Linked DNA regions of Homo sapiens. The protein of the gene in region 3 purifies or fractionates together with the protein of the main gene of each other region. This does not show direct contact. Each region holds a gene or a part of one and is shown on either strand. Other genes may lie near its edges.

Region 1 (3,655 bases), on a different chromosome or scaffold from region 3:
GACACTACCATGGCTGGGGCCACAGGGGAAGGCATCATCCTTGCCAACACTTGAGAGTGGACAGTGTGCTGATGGGAAACAGTGAGGAGTTTGCTGCAGGTACTGCGGAAAGGGCTAAAGAAAGAAAGTCTCCGGAGTGGCAGTGACCTCAGAGCTGGGTGGGGCTTGCCAGACCTAGGGTATGGGGGCTGGCCCACAAGTGTTTAAGGACCTGGAATGTTTGGGGGCAGCCAAATTCCCCACAGCGGGTTAGTGGTAGGAGAGGAAGCTGGGGTAAGGGATGCTGAAATGAGTTGGGTTTGAGACAGTGCTGAATTTGAGGTCCCAAAGACAATCTCTTTTGTTTAAAAAAAAAAAAAAAAGCCAGGCCATGGTATCATGTGCCTGTAGTCCCAGCTACTCAGGAGGCTGAGGCAGGAGGATCATTTGAGCCCAGGAGTTTGAGGCTGTAGTACACTATGACTACGCTGTGAATGGCTACTGCACTCCAGCCTGGGCAACACGGGGAGACCCTGTCTCTTTAAAAAAAAAAAAAAAAAAAGTAATGCTTTCTGTTTGCCAGGCACTGTTCTAGGTGATCCCAAGGAAGGTGCGATTATCATCTTCATTTTACAGCTGATAGAACTGAGGCATAGAGAAGTTAAGTGGCCCCGAAGTCATGCAGCTAGAGAATGAAGGAGCCTGTACTCAAATTGAGGCACAGAATGTCTGAACCACTGTTAACCACCACACTCCCTGTGGAGGGTTCAGGAGCCTGTGCTCAGGTGGGGAGAGGTGACAGCAGATCTGGTGGCTAGCTAAGAGCTACTACTATTTATGGGCATGCATTGTGGACAAGGGAGTGGCTGTGTCACCTTGACCACATCCTTTGAAATCTAGTACCTGTGACAGCGAGGACCATGAAGGTGTAGGTCTCAGGCTGCTTTCAGGATGAAATGAGAAGCTGTTCTGCATCCGTGTTCTGATAGCAAAGGTACCTAATGGTGATATGATTGAGCACTTTGAATGGGTCAGTTTCTGTGCTAAACCCTTGACCTGAATTACCTCATTTAACCCTCCCAACACTGGGAGGAGGCTACAATTAAGAAAAGACCAGGCACAGAGAAGTTAAGTAACTTGCCTGAGATCACACAGTTAGCATGGGACAGAGCTGGGCTCAAGCCCAAGTCTGTCTAGTTCCAGCTCTGAAGCTCAAGTGTTTTTTTTTTGTTGTTTGTTATTATTTTTTTTAAGACAGAGTCTTGCTCTGTCACCCACGCTGGAGTGCAGTGGCATGATCTTAGCTCACTGCAACCTCCACCTCCTGGATTCAAGTGACTCTCCTGACTCAGCCTCCCGAGTAGCTGGGATTACAGGAGCACACCACCATGCCCAGCTAATTTTTTCTTTTTTTTTTTGGAGACAGAGTTGCTCTTTTGGCCCAGGCTGGAGTGCAGTGGCACAGTCTCAGCTCTCAGTAACCTCTGCCTCCCAGGTTCAAGCGATTCTCCTACCTCAGCCTCCCAAGTAGCTGGGATTACAGGCACCCTCCACTAATTTTTGTATTTTTAGTAGAGATGGGGTTTCGCCATGTTGGCCAGGCTGGTCTTGATCTCCTGACCTCGCGATCTGCCTGCCTCAGCCTCCCAAAATGCTGGGATTACAGGCGTGAGCCACTGCGCCCGGCCAATTTTTGTGTTTTTAGTAGAGATGGGTTTCGCCATGTTGCCCAGGCTGGTGTTGAACTCCTGGGCTCAAGTGATTCACCTGCCTTGGCCTCCCAAAGTGCTGGGATTACAGGCGTGAGCCGCTGTGCCCGGCCACTGAAGCCCACACTCCTAATCCCTGCTGCATACAGCCTCCCTGCCATGAGGAAGGATTGGAGCTTTGGTAGTTTTCAACAGGCTGAAGGTTTGTAACAGTTGAAGATTGGGACTTTTTAATTTCCATGTTGCGTATTCTATAAACAGGAAAATGACAATGACTAGACCTGTCCTTTTCAGGAAGAAAACGAGGTGGTCAGTTTTTAGAGTAGGAGGCATTAAGGCTGGCAGAGAACCTCCTCAACCCATCAAGTGGGGAAGGTGGTTCATGATGCCAGGAGAACATAGGTCTCTGAGTTTAGGTTTTGTAAACTAGAGTGTGTTTTCCTCTCCCTGGGAAAGATAGAGCCAGATAGATGTTTCTGGTACCTGGAGCAGAGGGATCTGTGAGAATCTTTTGGTGGGTGAATGAAGGAACTTTGAATGCCACATGAAGGGTCCCACTTAACCCCAGAGGTTGGGGCCAGGCTGCAGTAGAGCACGGTCGAACCTCAGTGTTCGCTCCATGCAGCTTTATCTGCCTTCACTGAGGTGGTCTGAGGACCACCCTGCATCTTCAGGAATGTCTCTGGAAGGAGCCAGGATACGAGGCTCCTTGACCAGAGTATAGGCACAGGAAGCCAGGGTTACTTGGTAAATGGTAGGGCCTAATCCTGGCTTTGCAGCCTGAAGCGCTGGTTCTGGGATAGGTTTTATCCAGCAGCTCTCTGACCACACAGAATCACTCAGTGTGTCTGATACATAAAAGATGCTCAGTAAATACTGTAGGGGCCTATTATGTGCACCTTTGCTCATTCAGCTACATGCTTTGAGGAGAAATAAAGGGCAGGGGGAAGGGAGCGGTAGATAGGAAGAAAAGTAGTTCAGGTGATTCTGTCTGCCTTTCCACTCAGCAAGTATTTGTCCCTGGGTGGCTGTGCCTGGGGTTTGTGAATCTGCCAGCCCCTTCCTTGACTCTTGTTTCTATATACCTTTCAAAGTGTGGGCATTCTGCCACACTGAATGAGGTACAGTGTTTAAAAACAAATGGTTTGGCCATGCGCGGTGGCTCATGCCTGTAATCCCAGTGTTTTGGGAGGTCAAGGCTGGAGGATTCCTTGAGGCCAGGAGTTTGAGACCAGCCTGGGCAACATAGCGAGATCCCATCTCTACAAAAAGTTAAAAAATTAGCCGGGTGTGGTGGCATGTGCCTGTAGTTCCAGCTACTCAGCAGGCTGAGGCAGGAGGATTACTTGAGCCCAGGAGTTGGAGGCTGTAGTAAGCTATGATCATGCCAGTGCACTCCAGCTTGGGTGACAGGGCAAGACCCTGTTTCTAAAAAATAAATAAAAACACAATTACGTATAGCATGGCTTGAATACAAGCTGGCTGCTTACCAGGTGCTCAGGCGAGCTTCACCAAAATTGGAGGAAATACTGTTTTGAACCTTTTGAGAACCCATATGTTTGTTTCCTAAGCAAGTTTTTGGATAATCTTGAATTATACAGGATATTTTCCCTACATACTTGCTGTAGATCCACCCCTCCACCACTGTATCTGTTGATGACGCATTCAGCTTTTTGCCTCTGTTGCTGTGTGAACTGGGATTTGGCTGGGCTGTGGCCGCCTGCCTGGAAGGGCTACATAGCCTCATTTTGGCAATGTGCTTATGAATTGGCTGTCCGGCTATTCCTGGTTTGTTGAATGAGAGTTCAGAGGCAAAGCTGGTACCACCACGAGGTTCCAATTCCTCAGAGTCACGTTTCTTACCAGTGCCTATTCTCTTTTGTTCCAAAGAGGCCACTTTTGCTATGACCTCACCCTCGGGCATCCTCTTGATAACCTGAGCGTTAGTAGTGGGGATCATTGCGTTC
Region 2 (3,655 bases), on a different chromosome or scaffold from region 3:
GTCCTGGAATACTATTCCTCTAGGTATCTATTTGGCTTACTCCCCCACTTCCTTCATGTCTTGGCATAAGTGAAGCCTGCCTAAACCACCCGATTTTATTTTATTTTATTATTTTTTGGCACAGTCTCACTCTGTTGCCTGGGCTGGAGTACAATGGCATGATCATGGCTCACTGCAGCCTGCAACCTCCCAGGCTCGAGTGATCCTGCTGTCTCAGCCTCCTGAGTAGCTGAGACTACAAGTGCATGCCACCATGCCTGGCTAATTTTTAAAAACTTTTTTGTAGAGATGGGGTCTCACTATATTGCCCAGGCTGGCCTGAAACTCCTGGGCTCAAGCCATGCTCCTGTCTCAGCCTCTTAAATTGCTGGGACTACTGGCATGGGTCACCATGCCTGGCCCCTTCCTATTTTAAACTGCATTTCTGATTCTCCTTAACCTGACATATTTGCCCATGTATATCATCTAAGATACTCGAATTTACTTGTGTTTATTTAATCTGTTTCTCCTCATTAGAATGTAAGCTCCATGAGGGCAGGAATTTTTAACTTTTTGTTCAGTGATATATCAGTGCTGGCTGGGCGCGGTGGCTCACGCCTGTAATCCCAGCACTTTGGAAGGCCGAGGCAGGCAGATCACTTCAGGTCGGAAGTTTGAGACCAGGCTGGCCAACATGGTGAAACCCTGTCTCTACTAAAAATATAAAAATTAGCCAGGTGTGGTGGCCCGTGCCAGTAATCCAAGCTACCCAGGAGGCTGAGGCAGGAGAATTGCTTGAACCTAGGAGGCAGAGGTTGCATTGAGCCGAGATTGTGCCTCTGCACTCCAGCCTGAGCAACAGAATGAGACTCTATGACTCTATATCCAAAATATATACATACATATATATATATATATATATATATATATAAAATTGCCTAATAGTACCTGGCACGTAGTGCTTAATAATAAATATTTACTGAATGAACGAATGAATTATAATCTGTAGACTTTAAGAATTTATGTAATTGGAACCTTTTTCTGTGGCTTGTTAATCTTATTCTGGATAGTTGAGTTTACTTGATAAATGGCATAAATATATAAGGAGAGTACTGTATCTTAATATTGCATGTATGGTAAGTAATAAATTGATTGTTAAACTGATTTTTATGGAACACTTTGGAGTTTAAGTCCTTTAATTATTTAGTATTTTAAAGTATAAAGTCTGTAGTTTTAAGTGTCTAACCTATTTTTTGTTGAGATCTGAAAACTTAATATAAGTGTGTCTGTTGGTATTGCTTGGTTAGAGAGCTAAAATATTTCTAATTGGGTTTATTTTGTATTTTGCCTATAGATACACTCTGTGCAGTTTTAGAGAGAGACACACTCAGTATTCGAGAAAGTCGACTTTTTGGAGCTGTTGTACGCTGGGCAGAAGCAGAATGTCAGAGACAACAATTACCTGTGACTTTTGGGAATAAACAAAAAGTTCTAGGAAAAGCACTTTCCTTAATCCGGTTCCCACTGATGACAATTGAGGAATTTGCAGCAGGTAAGGGTATAAATTCACCAAAATCTATTTGAAACTGTTTTAATAGTCTGTCAGGGCTGGGCCTGGTGGCTCACACCTATAATCCCAGCACTTTCGAGAGGCCAAGGCAGGTGGATCACTTGAGGACAGGAGTTCGACACCAGCCTTGTCAACATGGTAAAACCCCGTCTCTACTAAAAGTACAAAAAATTAGGCATGGTGGTGGGCACCTGTAATCTCAGCTACTCAGGAGGCTGAGGCAGGAGAATCGCTTGAACCCAGGAGACGGAGGTTGCAGTGAGCCGAGATCATGCCGTTGCATTCCAGCCCGGGCGACAGAGCGAGATTCCACGAGACTCCATCTCAAAAAAAAAAAAAAATTCTATCAGTCTCCCTGCGCCAGAGAGGAAAAGAAGCTTTTATTCAGTACTAATCACATGACAAACATATATGCGAGTGTATGATTTTAAGCCCTTCAAAATTATATTATCCACATTGTATAGGTTAGAGAAGTAAAGTTGGGAGAGGTTGAGTGCCTTACCCCAGGTTATGACAGATCTTTTTGGCTTTTTTTTTTTTTCTTTTTTTTCTTTTTTTGAGACAGAGTCTTCCTCTGTTACCCAGGCTGGAGTGCCGTGGCACAAACGCATTTCACTGAAGCCTCCACCTCCCAGGCTCAATCAATCCTCCCACCTCAGCCTCCCAAATAGCAGGGACTATAGGTGCACACTACCATGCTCAGCTAATTTTTTAATTTTTTTTATAGAGACAGGATTTCACCATCCTGTCAGGGCTGGTCTTGAACTCCTGGGCTCAAGCCTCCCAAAGTGCTGGGATTACAGGTGTAAGCCACCACGCCCAGCCTCTGTTTGACTCTTAAGGTCGATGCTTCTGATTAAAATCAGACAGATCTGTTTTGAGTCTCCATGACCACTTCTGACCTGTTTTCATTACCCAGGTCATAATTGACTATTATCTGCCTTTAAATCACGGCCAGATTGATTCAAAAGAAAGAAAAGTCTCATGGTTTTTTTTTTTTTTTTTTTTTTGAGACAGGGTCTCCCTCTGTTGCTCAGGCTGGAGTGCGGTCGTGCGATCTCAGCTCACCGCAACGTCCATCTCCTGGGTTCAAGCGATTCTCACACCTCAGCCTCCTGAGTAGCTGGGATTACAGGCGTGCACCGCCACAAACTAATTTTTGTATTTTTAGTAGAGACAGAGTTTCACCATATTTGTCAAGCTGGTCTTGAACTCCTGACCTCAGGTGATCTGCCCACCTCGGGCTCCCAAAGTGCTGGGATTATAGGCATGAGCCACTGTGCCTAGCTCTCATGATTTTTTAAAAAATAATTTCAACTTTTATTTTAAATTCGGGGTAACGTGCAGATTTGTTTCATGTGTATATTGTGTGATGCTGAAGTTTGAGGTACAGTTGATTGCATCACTTAGGCAGTGAGCATAGTGTCCAGTAGTTAGTTTTTTAACTCTTTTCCCCCTTCTGTCCCTTCCTCTTTTCCCCTTTTTAACAGTCCTCAGTGCTTATTGTTTCCATCTTTATGTCCATGTGTATCCAATGTTTAGCTTCCACAAGTGAGAACATACGGTATTTGGTTTACTGTTTCTGCATTAACTCACTTAAGATAATGGCTTCTAGCTGCATCCATGTTGCTGCGAAAGGCATGATTTTGTTCTTTTTTATGGCTTTATAGTATTCTGTGGTGTGTGTGTGTCCGTGTGTGTGTGTGTGTGTGTGTGTGTGTGTGTCACATTCTCTACCCAGTCTACCACTGATGGGCACCCAGGTTGAGTCAGTGTCGTTGCTGTGATGAACATATGAGTGCATGTGTCTTTTGGTGGAACATTTTCTTTTCTTTTGGATATATAACCAGTAATGGGATTGCTGGGTTGACTGGTAGTTCTATGTTTTTTGGTTTTTTTGGGAGGTTGTTTGTGGTTTTTTTTTTTTTTTTTGAGACAGAGCCTCACTCTGTCACCCAGGCTGGAGTACAGTGGTACAATCTTAGCTCACTGCAACTTCCACCTCCTGGGTTCAGGCAATTCTCCCACCTCAGCCTCCTGAGTAACTGGGACTACATACGCCCGCCCGCCACCAAGCTTAGCTAATTTTTGTATTTTTTGGTAGAG
Region 3 (3,655 bases):
CTGATAAGATTTACGTTTTTTAAAAAGTTTTAAACAGCTATTTCATTACCCCTCTTTTTGATTAAAACAACCAAGTCTTTTAATTAACACTAAGTGAATTACTTATCTTTATTAAATCTCAACTTCCTGTGTTTGCTTCAGCAGCCCATATACTGAAATTGGAACCATATAGAGAAGATTAGCATGGCCCTTGGACAAGGATGACATGCAAACTTGTGAAGTGTTCCATATTAAAAAAAAAAAATCTCAGCTTCCTCATTTGTAAAATGGCAGTAAAAGGTTTTAAAAGGTCCCTACAATGGCCCTGAAATTAAGATGGTACTTACTAATGAATTTTAAAGATCATTCAATACCATATGTTTATTATGGTAACATTATAGTATTATTAAGATTATATTCAGGTAAAATTAGCATACTGAAATGAATTTATACTGCTTACTCTGGTTTAGAGATGGGGACGCAACTGTGAGACTGATAATGTAGTTTAGGCAAAATGAACAGAAGTTTAGTGAAAAATAAGGGGCTATGTGTCATTGAAACCTAGTGAATAATAATTCACTTAAAAATACTCTATAATTTAATTATTTGCTCAAGTAATATAATAATCTTAAACAAATTTAAACTACATTGTTTTTAAAACTTGCTTTGACATGCAGCTACAAGACATTCAGTACCTGACAGAGAACATCTGGGCGTCCCAGTCAGTCCTCAGTGCTTGCGACAATCTCAGTGATCTGGTCATGGTCAGATGGAATAAATCCCTGGAGTGGTCCCCCTGGAACTGCATTCTTCTTACCAAAGATGAAGCAGCTGCTCATCTCAAGCTAACAAGTATTGAAGAGGTAAGAAAGTTGAATTTTATTTGGGAAGTTAATTTAATCATTGGAATTATTAGCGATAACTGGACTGCCTTCTAATATATTCCATGCTTAAATACTTCCATCAGATTAAGAAACAGAACTTATGGATTAACAACAAAAAAATTTATGGATGGCATATATGGCACAGATTAAATAAAAGGTATATATAAGAGATTTGAACATATTACAAGTCCTAAACATCATACCAGTCTCTCCTAATAGTAAGTTTAAGCACATTCCACGGTAAATTCCATGAAGGCAGTGATTTTGTTTGGCTTATTTACATCTATTTCTCTAATACCTACAATACTGCCTGTCACAGAATGGAGTTTATAAGTATTTGTTGAATGAATAAATGTGCATTACCACCAGATAGGTATTATGGAACCCAGAATCTGTCCTTCTTTGATTAATTATCATGAGTCTGCTTAAAAACACCCAACTCTCAAATTTTGTTCATAATTTTGTGCTCTAAATAGCAATCATACTGATGGGGTGTAGTTCTGATGCTCCATTTTTCATTTGCTTCCAACTTGCTGGGAGTGGAGCAAGCACTGTAAACATTAAATGCCATTTACTGTAATTTTAGTAACTTACATGATGCAATCTGTAAAACATTTTGATGGGTAAGTTGAGGGACTCCTGAAGAGTTCGTAGAGAGCTCCATTTACACTAGGTCCAGGATCCCGAGAGTTAATACTGATTCTCTGCATTCTTTAATTCCACACAAGGTGTCAGCTAAAGGAAAGTAAAGAAATGACAAAATGCAGTAGTCGTTTAAAATAGTGTGATTCCCTGTTTGTTTTTTTTCAGTGGAACAAGGGGTGATGAATATAAAGATAAGAAACTAGCTAAAGTTTTAGTTTTTAAATATTTTTTTAGTTTTAAGAAGCCAGGCTAAGAAAAATTTCACTCTAGGGATTGAAAGAAAAGGTAGCAATAAGTTGAAGCTGTATTAAATGTTATATTTAGTAAACTAAGCTGCCTCATAAATATTTAATCACAGGAAGCATAGTCAATACTAGCAATATCATTTCATCTAGGACCCATGATGAGATTGAAGTTCATTCCCAAAGCTGATATTCCAGTGCTTCTTCAATTAATCCACACAACTCCCTTTGTGCATTTAATCAAATTACTGCAGTATCAAATTAAATGTTCTATTCACATGCATTTCTAATTTAGAATGCCAGTCTTATCGAATTTCTGTAAAGGGCACCAAGATTTGCAAGCAGACAAACTGGAAAAACATTTGCCTTTTTTATGGTTTTGGGCTGATACAATCTTTTAACTATTAACTTTCAGCCCAGTTAAAGAGTAGTTTATATCTTGCAGAAAGATGGAGCATTTTCAGAATTTTCTTAATGTTCAGAGATATTTGCTTTCTTAAGAAGTTAAAAAAATACTTGCAAGTTAATATGAAACAGGTATAGGAAACGTGGAAAAACACTTTCGTTAATGTGAACTTTAAGTGGAGCAGATTGATCTCTCCTTGTGTGCACACTGGCCAAAGTAGGAACAATCATGGACTTAAAATCAGTAATCCTGACCCAGTTAACTCAAATCTCTGTCACTGACAACTTTACATTAAAACCTTCCCTCTTTGCTTCATAAATTTTTAGAAAGATTAGCTAAATAAGTGGAATCAGTAAAGAGGATAAAAGCAGCTCTGGCTCTGAATTCTAGCTTTACCATTCATGAGCTGGGAGAAATTGGACAAATTTGTGAATGTCTCAATGACCCAGCTTTCTCGTCTATAAAAAAGAGATAATGGTATCTCATCATAGGGAAGCTTTGAGTAGGCCATTATTTAAAGCTTTCTGCATAGTTTTTTTTGGCATGAATAAACTTAGGTAGTAACTATGAAAGCACTTTAAAAATTTTTGATGCATTTTATTTTTAATTTTAAAGCAATATATTATTGGCTTAGAATCTGAACAGAATAAAAAATGTAATGTAGAAAGTAAAGGTCTCAGAGGTTGAGGGAACAGGGAGAGATTTGTTAAGGATACAAAAATTATAGCTAGATGGGAGGAGTGAGTTCTAGTACTGTTCTGTGGCACTGTAGGTTGTCTATAGTTAATTACAATATATGGTTTCAAATAGCTAGACGCAGCATATCGAATGTTCCCAGCACAAAGAAATGATAAATGTTTGAGATGAATATGCTAATTACTCTGATCATGATATATGTATCATCCCATCACTATGTACCCCGTAAATATGTACAATTATTATCAATTTAAAAAATTTAAAAAACGACTGAATGAATAAATAAAGGGAGGCAAATAGACAAATCTCCCATGTAGAATTCCAAATAATTTATGTAGATACTCTCCACTCTTAAGGAGATGGAGAATAACTCTCTACCCTTTAAATGTGGGCTGTACATAATAACTCCTTTCCAAAGACTATATTATGGATGGAAGGGGAGGACCTTTACAGTAGAGAAACTTGACAAACACTACCTCAGCCAGGTAATCAAGATTAACAGCAGCAGTGCTGTCATGCTGATGGTGTGTACCCTTGATATGATGTGAGGAGAAGGGCACTTCACCCCTGTGGTCTTCCTCCCCAAAACCCATCCCTTCAGTCTAATAATAATGAAGAAAACACAGGACAAACCCAGATTGAGACACATTCAGGAAAATGTGGGTGTGGGGTATATGGGACCTTTCTGTAATATTCTTAGAACTATTTGTACACCCAAAGAATTTGTGAACATAGTTTAAAACCATCACATGGCTATTTCAAGAGAATGGACCTTATTTCAATGGGAAAAAAGGTCTCTTGAT

The links.
Region 1: the proteins of IQUB (region 3) and FAM83D purify together in Homo sapiens (co-immunoprecipitation; one large-scale study listed by IntAct). This does not show direct contact.
Region 2: the proteins of IQUB (region 3) and BTBD1 purify together in Homo sapiens (affinity purification with mass spectrometry; 2 studies listed by BioGRID and IntAct, with this or other methods). This does not show direct contact.

The regions. Positions count from the first base shown.
Region 1 is NC_000020.11:38,929,269-38,932,923, forward strand, and holds part of FAM83D (protein FAM83D), read left to right. Parts: intron 1-3,655.
Region 2 is NC_000015.10:83,039,604-83,043,258, reverse strand, and holds part of BTBD1 (BTB/POZ domain-containing protein 1), read left to right. Parts: intron 1-1,333; coding exon 1,334-1,531; intron 1,532-3,655.
Region 3 is NC_000007.14:123,454,568-123,458,222, reverse strand, and holds part of IQUB (IQ motif and ubiquitin-like domain-containing protein), read left to right. Parts: intron 1-656; coding exon 657-842; intron 843-946; coding exon of another isoform or gene 947-1,030; exon of another isoform or gene 1,031-3,655. UniProt on the Homo sapiens protein: Adapter protein that anchors the radial spoke 1 (RS1) complex to the A microtubule of outer doublet microtubules in axonemes. The triple radial spokes (RS1, RS2 and RS3) are required to modulate beating of the sperm flagellum.